Linked DNA regions of Homo sapiens. The protein of the gene in region 4 interacts with the protein of the main gene of each other region in a biochemical or structural test. Each region holds a gene or a part of one and is shown on either strand. Other genes may lie near its edges.

What was found.
Region 1: the proteins of HUS1 (region 4) and TOPBP1 form a complex in vitro, tested with the Homo sapiens proteins (one study listed by BioGRID).
Region 2: the proteins of HUS1 (region 4) and RHNO1 form a complex in vitro, tested with the Homo sapiens proteins (2 studies listed by BioGRID).
Region 3: the proteins of HUS1 (region 4) and TDG form a complex in vitro, tested with the Homo sapiens proteins (one study listed by BioGRID).

The regions. Positions count from the first base shown.
Region 1 is NC_000003.12:133,599,702-133,602,973, forward strand, and holds the end of TOPBP1 (DNA topoisomerase 2-binding protein 1), read right to left. Parts: intron 1,693-3,272; coding exon 1,549-1,692; 3' UTR 537-1,548; downstream 1-536. UniProt on the Homo sapiens protein: Scaffold protein that acts as a key protein-protein adapter in DNA replication and DNA repair. Composed of multiple BRCT domains, which specifically recognize and bind phosphorylated proteins, bringing proteins together into functional combinations.
Region 2 is NC_000012.12:2,887,199-2,890,068, forward strand, and holds the end of RHNO1 (RAD9, HUS1, RAD1-interacting nuclear orphan protein 1), read left to right. Parts: intron 1-712; coding exon 713-1,261; 3' UTR 1,262-2,326; downstream 2,327-2,870. UniProt on the Homo sapiens protein: Involved in microhomology-mediated end-joining (MMEJ) DNA repair by promoting recruitment of polymerase theta (POLQ) to DNA damage sites during mitosis.
Region 3 is NC_000012.12:103,975,872-103,982,871, reverse strand, and holds part of TDG (G/T mismatch-specific thymine DNA glycosylase), read right to left. Parts: intron 5,955-7,000; coding exon 5,812-5,954; intron 3,042-5,811; coding exon 2,800-3,041; intron 2,718-2,799; exon of another isoform or gene 2,245-2,717; intron 1,980-2,244; coding exon 1,910-1,979; intron 74-1,909; coding exon 1-73. UniProt on the Homo sapiens protein: DNA glycosylase that plays a key role in active DNA demethylation: specifically recognizes and binds 5-formylcytosine (5fC) and 5-carboxylcytosine (5caC) in the context of CpG sites and mediates their excision through base-excision repair (BER) to install an unmethylated cytosine.
Region 4 is NC_000007.14:47,969,578-47,976,645, forward strand, and holds part of HUS1 (checkpoint protein HUS1), read right to left. Parts: intron 6,111-7,068; coding exon 6,036-6,110; intron 1-6,035. UniProt on the Homo sapiens protein: Component of the 9-1-1 cell-cycle checkpoint response complex that plays a major role in DNA repair. The 9-1-1 complex is recruited to DNA lesion upon damage by the RAD17-replication factor C (RFC) clamp loader complex.

The DNA.
Region 1 (3,272 bases), on a different chromosome or scaffold from region 4:
AGTCATTTGGAATTGAACGGTTTACATCAAAATTACATTCCTAACGGATTCTAGTTTGTCCTTAAAATGAAATTAGGTGTATTTATAGAGAATTCTGGTAACGCATGTAGTATTAGGTGTTTAGGTTTAGCATAATAAAGGCTAATGCAATACAGAGTTCCAATAACAGTATGTTTTAATCTAATAGGGCAATATTCTAAATAACAAATATCAGAAATGTTAAGCAATTCATTTATTTTTTTTGAGACAGGGTCTCATTCTGTCACCCAGGCTGGAGTTGCAGTGGCATGATTTCAGCTCACTGCAACCTCTGCCTCCTGAGTTCAAGTAATTCTCATGCCTCAGCCTCCCAAGTAGCTGGGACTACAAGCATCAAACAGCATGCCCGGCTAATTTTTTGCTATTTTTTGCAGAGATGGGGTTTCGCCATGTTGTCCAGGCTGGTCTTGAACTTCTGGGTTCAAGCAGTCCACCCACCTTGGCCTCCCAAAGTGGTGGGATTACAAGCATGAGCCACCGTGCCTGGCCTGCAATTCTTTTTTTTTTTTTTTTTGAGATGGAGTTTCGCTCTTGTTGCCCAGGCTGGAGTGCAATGGCGCGATCTCAGCTCACCGCAACCTCCGCCTCCCGGGTTCAAGCGATTCTCCTGCCTCAGCCTCCTGAGTAGCTGGGATTACAGGCATGTGCCACCACACTGGGCTAATTTTTTGTATTTTTAGTACAGATGAGGTTTCTCCATGTTGGTCAGGCTGGTCTCAAACTCCCGACCTCAGACGATCCGCCTGCCTCAGCCTCCCAAAGTGCTGGGATTACAGGCACGAGCCACCGCACCCAGGCCCCTGCAATTCATTTTTTACGTTACATAAATGTTTTGTTGCTTCAACAGAAGAACAGATGCCAGGGTGCTCTTTTAAAAAATTTATCTATGTAAACACATCTTAATACTAATTTGAGTTACTACTTTTATTCTTTATTGTCACATTTTCCAAGTTTTGCGCATTCAAACTTGGCAAACATCATGGAGATTTGTACAAACATACATATACATATATACACACATATTTATAGCCCCAGCTTCCTCATTAAACCTTGTGCTCAGGCTCCTGTTAAAAGAGGTAAAATGGTGAGAAGATAAAAATCAGGGAAAACATGAATAAATGCTGACTGACAAATCTTGTTGTTATGAATTTGTAAGGCAGACATTTTAAAGCAAAATCCATTACCTTGCTAAAATTTCCACTAAGCTACAGCTTCAGATATTTACAAGAAAAATAAATATCTTTTAACAGACTTCAATGTGGTTTAACAGCAAGCTAGCTGAGGAGTTGTATTTTGTTGTTATTTCAGGTAACTTTTTATTAAGAAACAGTTAATATTTCAGTGATTACAATTTCAGGTGTTCAAAACTCAAGAAGGGTCATCATTATACTCTGAAGCAGAATTCTTCAGGTACTCATCTTTAAATTACTACCCAAATCTATCACAGTCACATTCAGGCTTTCAATTTTTAAAAACATTTAATGTTTGGTAACTAAAGGGTAGATGCGATTAGTGTACTCTAGGTCGTTTGATTTTATTTTTTTCTGTAGGAGCTTTCCTCTTTTGTGATAATCCAGTCCCAAGTTCCTTATTATTCTGAATAAATGAAATAGCTTCTGGTAGACAGTAATTTTCTACATGAGGAGGTGATTCCTATAAAAGGAAAAATAAGTGATTTTTTAAAATGATTTCAAACATTTACGTGATCTGGTAATAGATTTTTTCTTTAAATCTCAGACCTCTCAGGGATGAATCTGACAAACTTAAAGGAAAACGCATATTCATTCCTAGGTTCCAGCAAATTAAACAAAATGGACCCTGTGGGACAAAGTCTCACCTTTTATCAAAGAAATACGTGTATGGTTCAGGTAGAGTGGGACTAGCTCAGATCTTACAAACATTTCATATCGGTGTTTTTAATCCCCATTTTTGAGATAAAATAAAAAAGGTTAAATGAAAACAACCAATGTCACATAACTAGCAGGTAGCAAAGCCAAATTTCATAACTGATCTGACTCCAAAACCCTTGCATTTTCCCCCCACAACCATTTCCCAACATAGAAATGGATCTTTTCCTCCTTATTATAAGTGTAATAAAACTTAATTTTCTAGCAATATGGCAGACTGGGCAACCTGAAAATGAATCACCACAAAATACCAAGTAAGTGCCTTTTGATTCAATTCTTCCATGGATAACAGCTACAAATTCTGACCAAAATATATTAAAAGCAACCATAGAGCCTGGAGAATAAACGAACCAAGCAAATGGGGGGCTGGGGACGCAAACACAGTGTATGAAGTAAACTGCCTGTTAAACAACACAGTACTCTTTGGAGGAGCAAAGGAACAATAGAACCTAGAGTTTCTTTTTTAGGGGGAGATAAGGGTCTTGCTGTGTTGCCCAGGCTGGTGGCTGGTCTCAAAAATGACACATTGAATACAAGGGAACAATTCAAATGACCATCACTGATTTCTCAACAGAAACAATGGAGGCCAGCAGACAGTGAAGTCTTTAATAGAAGAAAAAAACCTGTCAATCTATAATTCTGTATCCTGCAAAACTGTCCTTCAACAATGAAGGTAGAATAGACATTTCATACAACAGAAAGCTAGAATTGATCCCCAATCAACCTGCACTCCAAACTAAAGTTAGTTCTTCAGGCTGAAGGAAAATGTTATCAGATGGAAACTCAGATCTTCAGGGAAAACTGACACTCAAACTGGTATACATGAGGGTAATTATAAAATACCATTTTTTATTTTAGTTTCCTCAAAATGCACAGAATTGTTAAAAGCAAAACCTATTTAAAGTAAAATCTTATTTGGGGCTATAAGATGTAGATGTAAAATATATGACAACTACTGCATAAAGCAGAGGTCAGCACACTTTCTGTAAAGGCTCAGACAGAAACATTTTAGATTTTGTGGGATAGATGATTTGTGCTGAAACTACTTAACTCTGCCATTATAGTGCAAAAGCAGCCATAGAAAATACATAAATGAATGAGTATGGCTGTTTTCCAACAAACCTTTATTTATAAAATAGGCAGTGGGCCAGGTTTGGCCAGGTGGCTATAGTTTACTGACCCCTGGTATAAAGGACAGGGGAAGCAAATGAACCAACTTGGATGCAAGAGATCTACCTTTTTTCATTTTTTTTTTTTTTTTTTTTGAGACAGAGTTTCGCTCTTGTCACCTAGGCTGGAGTGCAGAGGCACGATCTTGGCTCACTG
Region 2 (2,870 bases), on a different chromosome or scaffold from region 4:
TGGGTGCCGTGACTCATGCCTGTAATCCCAGCACTTTGGAAGGCCGGGGTGGGTGGATCACCTGAGGTCAAGAGTTCAAGGTCAGCCTGGTCAACATGGTAAAATCCTGTCTCTACTAAAAATACAAAAATTAACTGGTCGTGGTGGTGCGCACCTATATTCCCAGCTACACGGGAAGCTTAGGCAGCAGAATCGCTTGCATCAGGGAGTCGGAGGTTGCAGTGAGCAGAGACCTGCCATTGCACTCCAGCCTGGGCGACAAGAGCAAAACTCTGTCTCCAAAAAAAAAAAAAAAAAAAAAATACCTGGGCGTGGTGGCAGGCGCCTGTAGTCCCAGCTACTCGGGAAGCTGAAGCAGGAGAATCACTTGAACTGGGAGACAGAGGTTGCAATGAGCCGAGATGGTGCCGCTGCATTCCAGCCTAGACGTCGGAGTGAGACTCCATCCCAGGGGGAAGAAAAAAAGTTATATCCATATGGTGTGATGAAGTGAAAGAGACATCGTCCCCTTTCCTACACATGAGGAAGCTGAAGGCCGGAGAGATGGAATAATTTGCCCAAAGCTTCCTGTTATTATGCCATTAGACAGTTATTTTAGTTTTGTGTTCATTACTACAGTAGACCCCGATTTAAGAGTCTGGTCATCAGATACAGTTTCCTCTCTTAGGTTAGTACTTAGTTAGGCTCACCTCACTTTTTTTTTTTTTTTAAGGTATCACCTGATTTTGATACAGCAGCAGGAAGCTTGTTCCCAGCCTACCAGAAACACCAAAACCGGGCGAGACACTCAAGTCGAAAACCTACCACCTCCAAGTTTCCACATCTAACTTTTGAGAGTCCGCAATCTTCCAGTTCAGAGACATTGGGGATCCCCTTAATCCGAGAGTGCCCCAGTGAATCAGAAAAGGATGTTTCCAGAAGACCCTTAGTTCCAGTGCTCAGTCCCCAAAGCTGTGGGAACATGTCAGTGCAGGCACTTCAGAGCTTACCTTATGTGTTCATTCCACCTGATATCCAGACCCCAGAGTCATCGTCTGTGAAGGAAGAACTCATTCCCCAAGATCAGAAGGAAAACAGCCTTCTAAGCTGCACTCTTCACACTGGCACTCCTAATAGCCCAGAGCCTGGACCTGTTCTGGTTAAAGACACCCCCGAGGACAAGTATGGAATAAAGGTCACATGGAGGAGACGACAGCACCTGCTTGCTTACCTCAGGGAGAGAGGGAAGCTGAGCAGAAGCCAATTCCTTGTGAAAAGCTGACTGCCATCAGTAATCTCAATAGAAAAGAGATATGTTTTCTGGAGTCATAAAGGAATTCAATTCCTAGGGTTTTTGTTTTTGTTTTTGAGATGTAATATTGCTCTGTTGCCCAGGCTGGAGTGCAGTGGTATGATCTCACCTTACTGCAACCACCACTTCCTGGGTTCAAGCGATTCTCCTGCCTCAGCCTCCCCAGTAGCTGGGATTACAGGCACCAGCCACCATGCCTGGCTAATTTTTTTGTATTTTTAGTAGAGATGTGGTTTCTCCATGTTGGCCAGGCTGGTCTCAAAATCCTGACCTCAAGTCATCTGCTGGCCTTGACCTCACAAAGTGCTGGCCCAGCCGAGATTTGTTTTCTAAGATACTTTGTGTCATGAACAGTTCAGTTTAGTGTCATGAACTATTCACTTCATATTTTTCTTGTATTAACTGTTTAAATTTTTAAAATATCTTGTAGTAACTCTTTAAAATGTATGTAAGTAAATGGCTGCAGAAAGTTTTTTTAGAGAATCCTGCTTCCATCAGTAATACAGCAATATTACCCCATCCACTAATGGTCTTTGTTTCCTTAACCACTACTCATTAATCCTTAATCACCTCATTCAAACTAATTCATTCTGCATTTTTGAGTACCAACTCTTGTCAGGCTCAGTGGCAGCTTCTACGACCTGATGGATGGAAAAAAATCAAACTCTGTGACTCTATGGTTGACTGCCACCTCTGCAACCTTGACTCATCTGCTGAAAAGGCAAGAAGAAGAAAGGGCAGCAAGCCCTGTTTTAGGGACTACATAAGATGAGGGGAGATAAGGGGGACATAGATGAGTTCTTTAGGATTGCGTGTGTTTTGAGTTTTTGTTTCTAACTGAAGAAATCTGTCAATATTAAATAGGGTGGGAAAATGGTTTCTTAGAATAACTGTTCAACTGTGTGTAAATAAGGAAAGTTTTCAATGAGTATTACTTATTGTAATTAATGCAGAAGGACTTCCCCAGTCAACCGAATGTCTCGGCCTTTTACTCAGACAAGTAGCATCTCATTAAACCCATTCATTTAGCATTCATTCAGCTGGACCTACTGTGTCAGGTCCAGCCCCAACTAGATCAAGCAGGGATTACTGTATATTTTACAGATGGGAGTTTGATGCAGAGAATGAACCATGCACAGGTCACACAGTGAGTGCACGCTGACCCAGGCAGTGTAACGGTCCACTCTCAGCGTGTGCCTCCTAAAGTACTAACTTGTAGGTTCAAAACCAATGTGGAAACAACTTTGACCTTAGAACGCCATAAAGCCATTTGTGCAGTGACTTGTCAGGACTCAGGATGTTTTGTAGGGACTATAATGTGCATGTCGGTAGGGAGAAAGGGACTGACATTTGGGGACGGGATTTATTGGAGACAAGAGTACACATTTAGACAGGGGCTCTCACGGTGGGCTATGGATGTTTGAGGAAGGCCCACAGGAGGTAGAAAGGTAGATGGAAAGAGTCTCCAGGACGGGCCCACGCCTGTAATCCCAGCACTTTCGGAGGCTGAGGCGGGTGGATCATTTGAGGTCGGGAGTTAAGAGGCCAGTCTGGCCAACATGGTGAAACCCTATCTCTA
Region 3 (7,000 bases), on a different chromosome or scaffold from region 4:
TTCCCTGGTAGAGTGTGATCATCCATATGGTTCAGCTGGACCTCACTGAGCCCTGACATAAACAAACACTTCCCTGTAAAATGAAAATTCAGTTATTTATTTTTTTTTAGACAGGGTCTCGCTCTGTCACCCAGGCTAGAGTGTAGTGGCACGATCATGGCTCAGTGCAGCCTCGACCACCGAGGCTCAAGCAATCCTCCCACTTCAGCCTCCTGAGTGGCTGGAACCCCAGATGCACACCACCACGCCCAGCTAATTTTTGTATTGTTTGTAGACAGGGTTTCACCATGTTGCCCAGGCTGGTCTTGAATTCCTGGGCTCAAGTGATCTTCCCACCTCAGCCTCCAAAATTGCTGGGATTACAGGTGTGAGCCACAGCGCTTGGATTTAATCATCATAATTATCTTGCAAGATACTATTATTATCTCCTTTTCACAGGGGGTTGAGGCAAATGCCTGCCCAAGAATATATAGCAACTCAGTTTAGGAAACTTTGAGACTATTTTGCTTTACAATTGGTGATACCACCACCTCACACGTAAACATACAGCACTAGACTAACAACATTCAAACACCTTGACAGTGAAGAAAGTCAAAAGTCCAAACTTCCCTTAAAAAGGAATTTTTTAAAATAATAGGGACAATATGTTATTATTAGTTCCAAAACCACATTACTATCAGTTGCCCTAAATGTTTTGAATGTTACTATTAGATAATCAATTTCCTGAGCGTATACTGCATACACTGATCTATTAGGCAGTATAAAATAAGATGATTTATATACAAGACAACTTATATAGAGAAGGCAATGCAACAGTAGTTACGCTTGTTTTTTGTTTGTTTTCTTGTTTGTTTTTGTGATACAGGGTCTAGTTCTGTCACCTAGGCTGGAGTGCAGTGGAGTAATTATGGCTAACTGCAGCCTCAACCTCTCAGGCTCAAGCAATTTTCCCAACCCAGCCTCCGTAGTAGCTGGAACTACAGGTGTGCACCACAGCACTCAGCTAATTTTTTATTTATTTTTTTGTAGAAATGAGATCTTGGTATGTTGTACAGGCTAGTCTCAAACTCCTGGCCTCAAGTGATCCTCCTGCTTTGGCCTCCCAAAGTGTTGGGATTACAGGTGTGAGCCACCAGATCCAGCCAACACTTGGTTTTAAAACTTACTCTAAAAATATGAGTCTTTACTACTATTTTATGCTCTGCTAGAAAATAATCACCAGAAATCTGGGAAAGTTAGTATTATGTCTGCACTGCCACAAAGATGTACTATACTATCGTTACTATGCCTATAGATAACAACTTTTAAAAAATCATTTTTAAAAAGTAATACAACTTGGCTGGGCGTTGTAGCTCACGCCTGTAATCCCAGCACTTTGGGAGGCTGAGGTGGGCAGATCACCTGAGGCCGGGAGTTCGAGACCAGCCTGACCAACATGGAGACACCCCGTCTCTACTAAAAATACAAAATTAACCAGGCGTGGTGGTACATGCCTGTAATCCCAGCTACTAGGGAGGCTGAGGCAGGAGAATCACTTGAACCTGGGAGGTGGAGATTGTGGTGAGCCGAGATCGCGCCATTGCACTCCAGTCTGCGCAAAAAGAGCGAAACTCCATCTCAAAAAAAAAAAAAAAAAAAAAAAAAAGTAGTACAACTCATTAGAAACAATTCAAACAAAAGAGAAAGTACTCTTATTCACATCCCTCCATTCTCATAGACTAAAATGTTAACAGTAACATATCATTTCAAACTCTCTTATTTTCACGTACAGACACACACACAGAACATGAAACACGAATGTGTATTTACAGTCTCTTTCTTTTTAAAAACACAATTGGTTTTTCTGAAAAAACCTGTTAACAAAGATACCTAATTTAAAAGTAAATTAATTTAAAAGGTAACCACTTACAAAAATGGTTTCCAGGTCCAGGGTAATGATGCCCTTTGTAAGCAGCCATTAGTCCCGGGTTTATGCCAATCTATAAAACAAAACAATTAGACATTTCATCTTAAAAAGCAGGACCTAAGCCTTAGCGTTTCTATGGAGGAGTGGTGGACAAAATTGAGTTGATTAAAATACAAATTTAATTCAGCATCATAAGCAATATCATTTATCAATTACTACTCTTGATCTGAACAAAGTATTTCATATATGGGAAAGAGATTTTCTTTATTTTAAAAGTTTTGCTGTTATTTTAAAAAACCAGTTTGACTCCTTTATGATCCCAGGCCTCGCACCCTCACCAACTGGGCTGCTTTGAGTCTGGAAAGACAGGTCCTGGAACAATCAATCTGAGCCCATGTCCAGCCACAATTCTGATTCTCAACTTTCAACAAGAAGCTCGCTCCACATCACCTACACAATTGTTCACATGCTGATGTTTCTTACAGTTACTGAGAAAAATAAGAGCTTAAAATTAGTGCTGCCATGTATCAGGTCTCCACAGGCATCATTCAGTTGAAGTGATTCACATGGATTCTCTCATTTACTTGCAACCCTATCGGGGGGTGGTATTATCACCCCTGGTTTATCAATGAGAAAACCGGTGTTTAGAAAGGTTAATAAGACTTATCCAAGATTATACTTGTGACAGGATTTGAACCCAGACAGTCTAAATTTGGAGCCCACCCTCTTAAACACTCTCATATAACACAACCTCATGAAGCTGACACCATTTACCACCAAAAGGATTCTTAGAAATGGTCCTTTTCAGCAAAATGCTATTTGCAAGGACAACTGTTAAGTAAAGCTGATCCCCCAATACTACTTATAAAATCCAACGAGGACAAAGATCTTACAATGACAATGTCCAGATTGAAGGTCAAAATATCGGGGAGAGTCTTGGTCAGAAGTTCAGCTTCTGAAACACCATTAAAACGGTCTACTTTTCTTTTTACTTTAAATGTGTCTGTAATTTTTTCTTGTTTTTCTTTTGATTTTGCAGACTTGCCAGATTTTTTTGACTCAACAGGTTTTTTGGGTTCCACTGGTTGTTTTGGTTCTGTTGTTCTGGGTTTTCTTTTTCTTCCTTTTGGAGCCTCTGAAATACAAATAATTTCCAGAAATGCAGAAAATCTTAACTTAGAAACTTTAGCAGCTTTCCCAGAAAAGTTACCCAACTAGCACCTTTTGTACCTGTCTCCCCAAAATTAAGCTCTTACAGTCCCAACATGAGTCTCCTCTGCAATATCTTCCCTTTCTTTCTCCCTAGAACTGGGTTCGTGCAACCCCCCATGCCACTCTCCTTCCCCTGCTAGCTGTTCGTGGGAAGAATAATCATAGACTATTATTTTCGACACAGTATTACTTGGCATCTTAACCTCCTCAAGGATACAAAGTATCTACATATCATTTTATATAAATTCTAAATGTAAATACATAAATAATTAAATAAGAACAGAAAAATAGAGAAACAGGAAGGAAGGGAAACATTTTAACTCAACTTCCCCAGTAGAAAACCACAAATGGGCCAGGTATGGTGGCTCATGTCTGTAATCCCAGCACTTTGGGAGGCCAAGGCAGGCAGATCACCTGACGTCAGGAGTTCAAGACCAGCCTGGCCAACATGGTGAAACCCCCGTCTTTACTAAAAATACAAAAATTAGCCAGGCATGGTGTCGTGCACCTGTAATTCCAACTACTCGGGAAGCTGAGGCAGGAGAATTGCTTGAACCCAAGAGGTGGAGGTTGCAGTGAGCTGAGATCATGCCTCTGCATTCCAGCCTGGGCAACAGAGCAAGACTCTGTCCAAAAAAAAAAAAGAAAGAAAAAAGAAAAACACAATGGCTTGTGGGCTTGTTTTAGAGATGAGGTGTATATTCTGTTCCATACATAGTTGAAGAGGGGAATTTAGGGGTGCCCAGGATGACATCTCTGGGCTGGCAGTATTTTTCAAAAGGCAAGAGGAGGGATCCAACCTCAGGACGTAAAGCAGTTTCTCAGCCTCCACACTATTGACATTTTAGGTTGCATAATTTTTTGTTGTGGGTGGCTGTACTGCACATTACAGAATGTTTAATAGCACCCCTGATCTCTACCCACTAGATGCCAGTAGTAACCTGCCAGTCTTGATCATCAAAAGTGTCTTCAGACAATGTCAAATGTCCCTTGGGAGGGCAAAATCACCCTTGATTGAAAACCACTGACCTATAGTTACCCAACAGGAAGCCCTGATTTTCTTACCCTTAATTATTTAACATTTCTCCTAACTACTCAGGCTTCTACCCTATTCTACTCCTCTTTGGCGTTTCCCCAATCAAGCCTCGCAGGATACAGGCAGTCAGTCCCTCCTCTCTTCTGCCTCACATTGTCTTAGCCACTCCCTATGCCAACAGATCCACCATCACTGGCATGTAGCTGGGGAAGTCCTAATGCGGAGGCAGAGTTATTAGATGTGTTCCTGCAATCATAAACCAAAACCCTGAGCACATTTCTCATAAAATACTGTTACACTGGAGAAAATCATTAACTTCTCTCCAACCACTCTCCCACCCCTGGAACCTATTATTTTCTTCTAATTCTCTGTCTTGGTGAGTGGCACCTCCTCCAACCAAATGCCAATGCCAGAAACCTGGTAGTTACTTCTGGACTCCCCTTTCTCCCCCACTATCCTGCCATGCTCCCCCCAAACACATGAAACCCATTAGCCATGGCTAGGTAATTCTACCTCCTAAGTGTTTCCTAATTCTTTCTCCACCCCTTCAGGTCCTCCTCAGTGCTCCCCTAGATTATTCAAACAGTGTCTCTAATCCATCTAATCCACTCCTTGACTCCAAGTTTTGTTTTTGTTTTTGTTTTTGTTTTTGTTTTTGAGACAGAGTCTCGCACTATTGCCCAGCTGGAGTGCAGTGGTGCAATCTTGGCTCACTGCAGCCTCTCAGCCTCCGCCTCCAGGATTCAAGCAATTCTCGTGCCTCAGCCTCCCCAGTAGCTGGAATCACAGGTGTGCGCCACCATGCCCGGCTAATTTGTGTGAGGCAGGGTTTTGCCATGTTCGCCAGGCTGGTCATGAACTCCTGACCTCAGGTGATCTACCCGCCTCAGCCTTCCAAAGTGCAGGGATTACAGGTATGAGCCACTGTGCCCGGCCTGCCTCCAAGTTCCGACTTGTTGTCTACCAACCAATCTATCTTCTCTAATATTTCCAGGCTAATTTGTAAAGCACCAGTCAAGTAAGTCATCCCTTGCTTACATTCTCTCAACAGCTCCCTATTGCCTTCATGATAGAATATAAATTCTTTGGGATTAAAAAACAAGTTTCAACTGTCCCCATCCAGCCTCACCTCTCACCATTTCCTTGTTATATCCCAGACTCCAAGGACACAGAATTGCTCTGTTTCTGGCCATGCCATGCTTGTGTGTGTCTGTACCCAGCCTGTATAGCTCCCTCAGCCTGGACATGTCCCTACTCTGATCTTTATCGGGATGAAGCCTCCACATTGTTGGAGTTTCAGAGCCCTGGTGTTATTTCTCTGCTCTGGGAAGCAGCCTCTGAGCCATCAGTCTGAGTTAGAAGCCAACCCCATAAGCTTTCAGGGCATTCATTCTATGCCCCTCTTCACTACAAACTGTGCTGAGCTGTAACGTGTATTTACTTATTACTTTTCTCTACTAGATTATGAGATATTTTTGGGCAGGACCCATGTTCTTTTATTCCCCAGAACCTATCAGTGCTTAGCACATACTAAGTACTTAAAAAGTGGATTTGACTTTTTAACACTAAAATAGAGCTAAAATTCACCATGAAACCCTTTCTCAAATAAGCTGGCTGATCCGATGTTGAACTTTCTAAGCTCTCATGGTGAAACTACCTTGCACTGGTTCCTGAGCAGGAGCTGGGGCTGGAACTTCTTCTGGCATTTGCTGTTCATTCACAACTGCCATATTAGGAGCTTCAGCCATCAGTTGTTGAAATGGAAACGTATAAAAAGCTTGAGCTTGCTGAAGGGAATAGCTGAAAGAATAATGAAGCATGAGATGTAATGATAAAATTACCCAAATGTAAATCCAAATGATCAGCTGTACAAAAATCTTCAGTACAGTATTAAGTATTTTGTAACCAGACTGAAGTATTTATTTAGAGTGGATTACAGAGGAGAGATCTAGTCCTGTATGTACATGTTCACCAACCTTTACTGAGTGCTTAATAACCAACCATTAACTCTTGCACTGTTTAAATGATAAGATGTGTCACTGATAAAACTGATCAGTCCTGTCAAGTCAGCCCATACTTTCTCTGAAATAAGATTTGAGGGAGTTTTCTAGTAGACAGACTTGAAAGGTCTATCAACCCATACAGGGTTAAGATGTCCCCAAATACAATTTGTGCCCCTACTTTCCTTCAGTATTTAATCACCTGAAGATCCCCTCCAATCTAATTAAGATTCTCTTTTAGTTTATTTTTATTTGCCTGTTTACTTATTTTTTCATTAGTTTGTGTGTGTGTGTGTGTGTGTGTGTGTGGGGAGACAGGGTCTCCCTCTGTCACCCAGGTTGGAGTGCAGTAGTGTGATCTTGGTTCACTGTTACTTCTGAGGTGGGAGATCTCAAGTGATCCTCCCACCTCAGCCTCCCAAGTAGCTGGGACTACAGGAGCGAGCCCCAATGCCTGGCTAATTTTTGTAATTTTTGTCTAGACAGGGTTTTGCCATGTTGGCCAGGCTGGTCTTGAACTTCTGAGCTCAAGAGATCTGCCCATCTCAGTTTCCCCAAGTGCTAGGATTACAGATGTGAGCCACTGCACCCAGGCCTATATTTGATTTTTATTGATGGTGGTATTTTTGTTTTGTTGGGGCTAGGGCTTTTTTTTTTTGCCACTGCTATGGTTTGAATGTGTCCCCCAAAGTTCACGTGTTGAAAACTAAATCCCCAATGCAAGTGTTGAGAGGTAGGACCTTTATGAGGTGACAAGGCCGGGCACAGTGGCTCACACCTGTAAACCCAGCACTTTGGGAGGCCGAGGAGGGTAGATCACCTGAGGTCAGGAGTTTATAACCAGCC
Region 4 (7,068 bases):
AAAACAGGTGGAACTCCGAGAGGACTTGCCAGGAGACTACAGCAGCACAAGGGCAGGGCTCTAGGGAGGGCTGGGTGGAGCTGATGAGAACTCCCTCACAGCAGGAGAGAGTCCTGCACTGAGAAGGAACCACGGGAAGTAAGAGCCTCAACTAAGCAGAATGGGCACCTTGGGCAAAAAAAAGGGAATGAAACTTTAAATGAAGGAAAAAGAGGGACAGATCTCAGAAAGTCCTGGGGATGTGGTGAGGATGCATGTTTTAATATTTTGTGGTTACAAAGAATAGAGAATTCTAGAGTCATTAAATTAGAAAACTATTTTGGTCCACTTTCACTCCTACAATGAAACTTCCTCCTAAAAGAACCAGAAAAACCAGCCGGGCGCGGTGGCTCTCGCTTGTAATCCCAGCACTTTGGGAGGCCGAGGCGGGCGGATCACGAGGTCAGGAGATCAAGACCATCCTGGCTAACACGGTGAAACCCCGTCTCTACTAAAAATACAAAAAATTAGCCGGGCGTGGTGGCGGGCGCCTGTAGTCCCAGCTACTCGGGAGGCTGAGGCAGGAGAATGGCATGAACCCGGGAGGCGGAACTTGCAGTGAGCCGAGATTGCGCCACTGCACTCCAGCCTGGGTGAAAGAGCGAGACTCTGTCTCAAAAAAAAAAAAAAAAAAAAAAGAGAAATGAACAATAATAGACGCTATGACACAACAACATAAATCAGAATTAGGGAAGCTCAGACATGAGATGACCAGAGAGCACGCACATAAAACACAGCTGACAGCACAGGAAGTAATTAGAAACATAAGGAAAAATTTCAGAAACAGAAACTAGTTTAGAAGGAAGACTAGAGCAAATAGGCACCACAGAGAGAATAGTAAGAGAAACTGGGATGGAAAGGAGAAAGATAAAATTTACCAAACAGAAACAAAGAGTTAAAAGGATCTGACAGAAAATAATAAAGACAGTGGAGAAGATCCAAGCCCTCTGAGTCCCAGAAGAAAAACAAAGCACTGGAAAAGAAATGCTATCAACTACAGCTCAAAACTTTCCTGAAGTGAATGAAGAGTTCGGCCCACATATTGAAAGGACACACCACACACCTGGGAAAACTGACCCCGGATGGTCAAGACAATTGGATTGAAAGAAAAATGGGAAAAATCCCCAGGGTATTTAGTCCCCACTTTCAAATGAATAAATCCAAGCTGTGAAACAAAATCAGAATGGAGTCATTCTTTTTGATAGCAATAATATACACCAGCAGACAATGCAGTGCAGTGAGCCAAACTGACATTATAAACACATGATAACCAATGAAATCCTATTCCTGTGAGTCCTTCTTGAGTGATATGCTAGAGAATAGGCTTTTAATAACCAAAAAAATCATTGGAGAAGTTACAGCATAAACAGTGTGAGCCTTATTTTGACCTTTAGAACCAAAACTAAACAACAGGAATGAAGAGGACAGAATAACGTGTAGTAATAAAATTTTATGCTCTGATGATGTAGACATAATATAACCATTACAAAACAGGAAGGGGGAAAATGAGAAGAATGTGGAAATCAGTGTCTTATTTTTATAAAATATAAATCAACCATTTGTCATAAACACACATTTAATATGACTATAAGGCCTTCAGAATCTCATGAGAACATAGCCATTTATTTAGAAAATAAACTCACATGTTGGAAAATGAAATGTCCAAATCCAGAAGGGTCTGGGGCTGCTGTTGGGTTACCAGGACTGAGGATGGCTGAGCCAAACTCCACACGCCCAGGCTACCAGACTTCTGCCATCCCCTCATATACCATCGGGCACCCCTCTTCTACTCCTGCTCTTGCTGCCCGGGGACTGTCTCCACAGGTCACAAGGGACTCCTTTCCTTTGAAGCTCCTCTACCCACCCCAACAACCAATCAGTTCTTTTAATTGGATGGAACCTAGAAGTGAAGCATATGCCACAGTATGGTTTGAGGTTTTGCTAACCTATCCTGGTCCACTCCCGCACCTACAATGAAATTTCCTCCTAAAAGAACCAGTACCTGTTATTTCTCTTTTTGATGTTGATATCTGCCCAATGTTAAAGCCTAGGAGGTCTCTGGAAAGCCAGTGTGTAGTCTGCTGGATAGCATTTTGCCATCTAGTACTAGAAAAGTGCCACCTAGCAACTGGTCTTATTTAGGGCCATTCCATCCTCACAGTGTCACAGAAAGAAAACAGAGAAGGCACTCTGTCTGCACGGCTCTGTATCAGTGTTCATGTTTACTGAATACAATTTAGTGTTCCTTGTTCTTATTCCTTAAAATTGGTGAACTCTGAATAGTTTTCATTCCAGAAACAAAGTTTTTCTAATTTGGGTGAGCTCTTATTTCTGAGCTTTTCACATTAATAGAAAAATAGTGCCCCAAACTTACCTGTTGTATAATCTACTTTGAATGAGAAATACTCATTTTCAACCCTTTTCTTTCATTAATCCAAAAAAATATATTGTTATATTTCCTAACCCGTTTTCCTACAATCTGGAACAATAGTTGACTGAAATAAAATATATAAAACAATCTTTGTGAATATGCTAGACTGCTTAGTGGGGCTAAGGCTAACACATGACCTTAGCTCATTTGTTCCAAACAACCACACACCCAAGATCTGTAAATTCCCATTGTTTTGAAAAGCAATGGTTTTAGATATAAATAAATAAATACTTATTTAAAAATGCAACTTGCAATGGGCCTAGATGCACTTCAGGCTTAAATGTTCTCTTGTGTTTTCTTCAAATTCCTAAGAATCTCAGTAACAGAACATTAGATTCCAACTCCCTCCTAACCATTAACACCTGGTGCCTAGCACATGGTGGCCTTAAGTCAATACTTACTGAAGAAACTAACAAACAACTAATTCTCTGAACACTGGTCACTCATGTCTATTTTAAGATTCAGTTATTTGGGATATTATACACAACAACACACTTGATTTCTTAAGTATCAGGGTAAGATCTTTCAATGATTTCCTTAAAATAGTCAACTATTGTTTATAGAATGCTGACTATACTGGGCACCTAGTAAAAATTATCTCTAAATTTTTAAAAACTGACGAAGCCCCTGTCATAGCTGCACTGTTATCCCCATTTGGGGTAGTATCCAGCACTAGGGTACTCACTGCACAGCGCAGCCTGGAGCTGAACCCAGGTATGTGGCTCCAATGACTCCCCTCTTCCATATCATGACTCCTAAACATAGACTCTGGTTTCTATCATTAGGTGACCCTGCAGAGCCGTTTCTCAGATAACATTTGAAGTACAATATAGTATGGCAATGATGTGGTTTGTTTTGGCTCAGCAACCCCACCCAAATCTCATCTCGAATTGTAATCCCCAAGTGCTGAGAAGGGGCCTGGTGGTAGGTGACTGGATCATGGGGGCAGCTTTTCCCATGCTGTTCTCTTGATAGTGAGGGAGTTCTCATGAGATCTGATGGTTTTAAAAATGGCAGTTTTTCCTGTGTTCTTCTCTCTCCAGCTGCCATGTTAAGACGTGCCTTGCTTCCCCTTTGCCTTCTGTCATGACTGTAAGTTTCCTGAGGCCTCCTCAGCTATACAGGACTGTGAGTCAATTAAACCTCTTTTGTTTATAAATTACCTGGTCTCAGGTAATATCTTTTTAGCAGCGTGAAAACGGAGTAATACAGGCACACATCACAAAGTACTGCTACATGATGTGGTCTGAAGACAGGCAGCATCGACATCTCCCAGGAGCTGGTCAGAAACAGAGCCTCAGGCTCCAGCTCAGACCTCCCAAATCAGAACCTGCACTTTAACCAGATTCCAGGGGATTCACACGCATGGTAGAACTTAGAAGCAATGTCTTAGAACATGATGTCAATTCCCTCCAGTTCTTGCTTCTTTTTCTGCTCCTGCATGAGTCACATACAACCCACCCCATCAGTCACACCTCGCATTTAATGAAAGGAAGTAACTGGGCATCTCTAATGGGAAGGTGGGCATTTTTAGTGTGTTAAGTCTACCCATTTTCCTTAATTCTACTGCCTGTAATATTCAGATACAGAATTCTGGATACCCAGGAAGACCTCATTATGTACTTTGCTACAGTAACTTGATAACTTTCCATTTAGTAATTCCAGATCGTAGTAGCCTCTCCACAATATTTCTATGTTTTTTTAAACTCCAAAAAAGAGAAAACAAAACACCTCTGATGATTCTAAGCTACCCTTCTACCTCTCTACCTTGCTGACTCATTTTCATTGAACAGAAAGAACAAACAAATGCCATCCTTCAATTAACAGCCCTGTCTTTTCTCTCCTGGGCCTCTCTGAATTTCTCTGGAAGTCCCCAGGGTATCCCCAGATGAAGCCAGCCTGACAACTGGATCAGCATCACTGCAGTCACAGGTGACACCAACGTCAGCACAGTGCACACTGCTTCATGGAAAACAGATTTTATAGATTAAGTTATGAAGGAAAAGCTTTGAGTTACCCAGGTCCAATGACAGCATTGCTCTTAGTGTGCAGAACTCTAGAAAAAAACAGTCAAATGTACATTTTCTAGGCTTCAAAATACTTTTGTGATTTCAAAGACCTCTTGAAGCTAAATTTTGTTCCAGATCCATGCAACACTTATTGCTGCCTACTGAGTGGCAATCCCACACTGGGCAGCTGGGACACAAAGATGATTAAGATGGGGTTTCCTTTATCAAGAAGCTGGTGGTTCACGAGACCTTCAGAGATCTTAGCAGGTGATTTACCATGTACACTGGACAGCTCAGCTCCATGGAGGAGCTTCCAGAGGGGTGGTGGGGAAAGGTCTGTGATGAAGCATGAGAATGGCTAAGTGCCTTCCAGGGAGATGGAGAGAAGAAGCCATGTGTCAAATGGCAAAGAAACTGAACAAAAAAGAAGAGGCATTGTGGGGGAATACCAGAACCCAGCCTCGTTCTGCAGGGAGGGTGTGGCAATACAACAGAGATGTGGCTATAAAGGTGGCCTGGTACACTGTCAAGATCAAAAGTTTATGCTTCATCAGGTGGACAGTGGTTTTTAGAAGATTCAGGGACATAACCAAGGGTGTTTTTTGGAGCAGGATAGGAGGGAGCAGGGGGAGGAGGGAGGGGCAGTGAGTGAAGGAAGAATTCACAATAACCCCAGGTATGAATGAGGATAACCTACACATTTCCCACCACTGTCACACACTGTAACATTTCGAGCCATGTGGCCATAGGAGACTTCCACAAAATAAACAGAAAATAAACAGAAATATAAAAGTGCCCCCTAGCTTGGTGTGAGGTGTGCTTGGAATAAAGGCTGCTATGGTGTGGCATATCTTTGTCCCTGGCTCACTGAAAGACACTTGGCACGCAGACAGGAAACTCCAAACTCACTGTCAGTCATATCAGTGACTCACAGAAAAATACGGGCACGTTAGCAGGTAAAAGATACAATGTTCCAGCCGGGCGCGGTGGCTCACGCCTGTAATCCCAGTACTTTGGGAGGCCTAGGCGGGCGGACCACGAGGTCAGGAGATCGAGACCATCCTGGCTAACACGGTGAAACCCCGTCTGTACTAAAAATACGAAACAAAAAATTAGCCAGGCATGGTGGCAGGCGCCTGTAGTCCCAGCTACTCGGGAGGCTGAGGTGGGAGAATGGCATGAACCCGGGAGGCGGAGCTTACAGTGAGGTGAGATGGCGCCATTGCACTCCAGCCTGGGCGACAGAGTGAGACTCTGTCTCAAAAAAAAAAAAAAAAAAGAAAGATACAATGTTTCATACAAAATATAAGAGGAAAAACAGGCAGATTAAAGGCAAATATAAAAGCTTTCCTCAAAGAATTAGAGTTGAAAAGTATTGGAATAGGTTTCTAAATCCAACTAGCAATCTGCAGGTTCTCAGCACCAGGCCAGGTCCTCATAAGTGGGAACTCGGTTAGGAGGTGCCCACCTGCATGGACTGCTGCAGGGTGAGCTGGAGAACCCACGCCGTCCCACCAAATACTTCAGAGTTCTTTTCTAAAGAAGTTGTGACTTACAAGGTGATTGCTGATGTTTTTCATTTTTTCCACAACACTCTTCATAGTCTTCAAGACTGGTAAATAAATACTAACCTACAAAACCAATGAGAAAAAAGCACAAGTATTAAAAATATTAATATACTCTAGTAATGACAAGGGCCCCATAACTAACTCTAGAACACATGCATGCTCAAAAACTATGGGATACTATTTTACAATTTTCTGAATAAAGTTCTTTTAAAAATATAAAAAGAAAACCAATTCTATTTCACTAACTCAAGGATGCTCAAGCAAAATTAAAGAATGGAATGCCTGCCTCTGGTTACCTCAGCAACCATGTCCCTGTGGGCATTCTTTTGGCTCAAGAAGGAATAGGGTACTTCAGCTGAGATGCCCCTATATTGGTCCAGGGGGAATATAACTCAGGCAATCAGCAGGAGGCCCTCCTCTAAGGGACATTTACACCTATGATTCAAGGGCCTTTTCCATGCTCTGTACAAAAACATGGCAGACAGTCACTGCATCACATCTGAGACTGTTACCAAGAGTGCTCTATAAAACACAGGCTTTTTCAAAATCAGTGTAGGTGCCATCTAGTAAAAGTCAAGTAATTATTTTACCCAGCATATTTCTGTACTTTCTTCTTAAACAAATTGTGAGCAAGAGGAAATGGGCCCTTTGGCATCATCTTTACTTTCAGGAGCTCTAGGGTTAACCATCGGCATGACCGTTACCCCATGTTAGCCCTAAGCCATGAAATTCTTCTCTTCTTGGCTTTCGTGCACATCCAGATATCGCTCCTGACCGGCTGAGGAAAAGATCAAGTCCTGTGAAACCCAAATTGGTGTCTAAGGCCAAGAATACTAATAAATACTAATTGTCCTCCAAAAGTATCATTTGTGTTTTAAGTGATGTTACTGAGCGAGACATTTTCTACATATAGGATGGCATGACATTTCTATCATATGCAACATTTTTAAGATGCTTTATGTAAATAACAAAAGGCAAATAATCTAATGTTTTCGTTAAGTATCCTTTAAAAATAAAATAT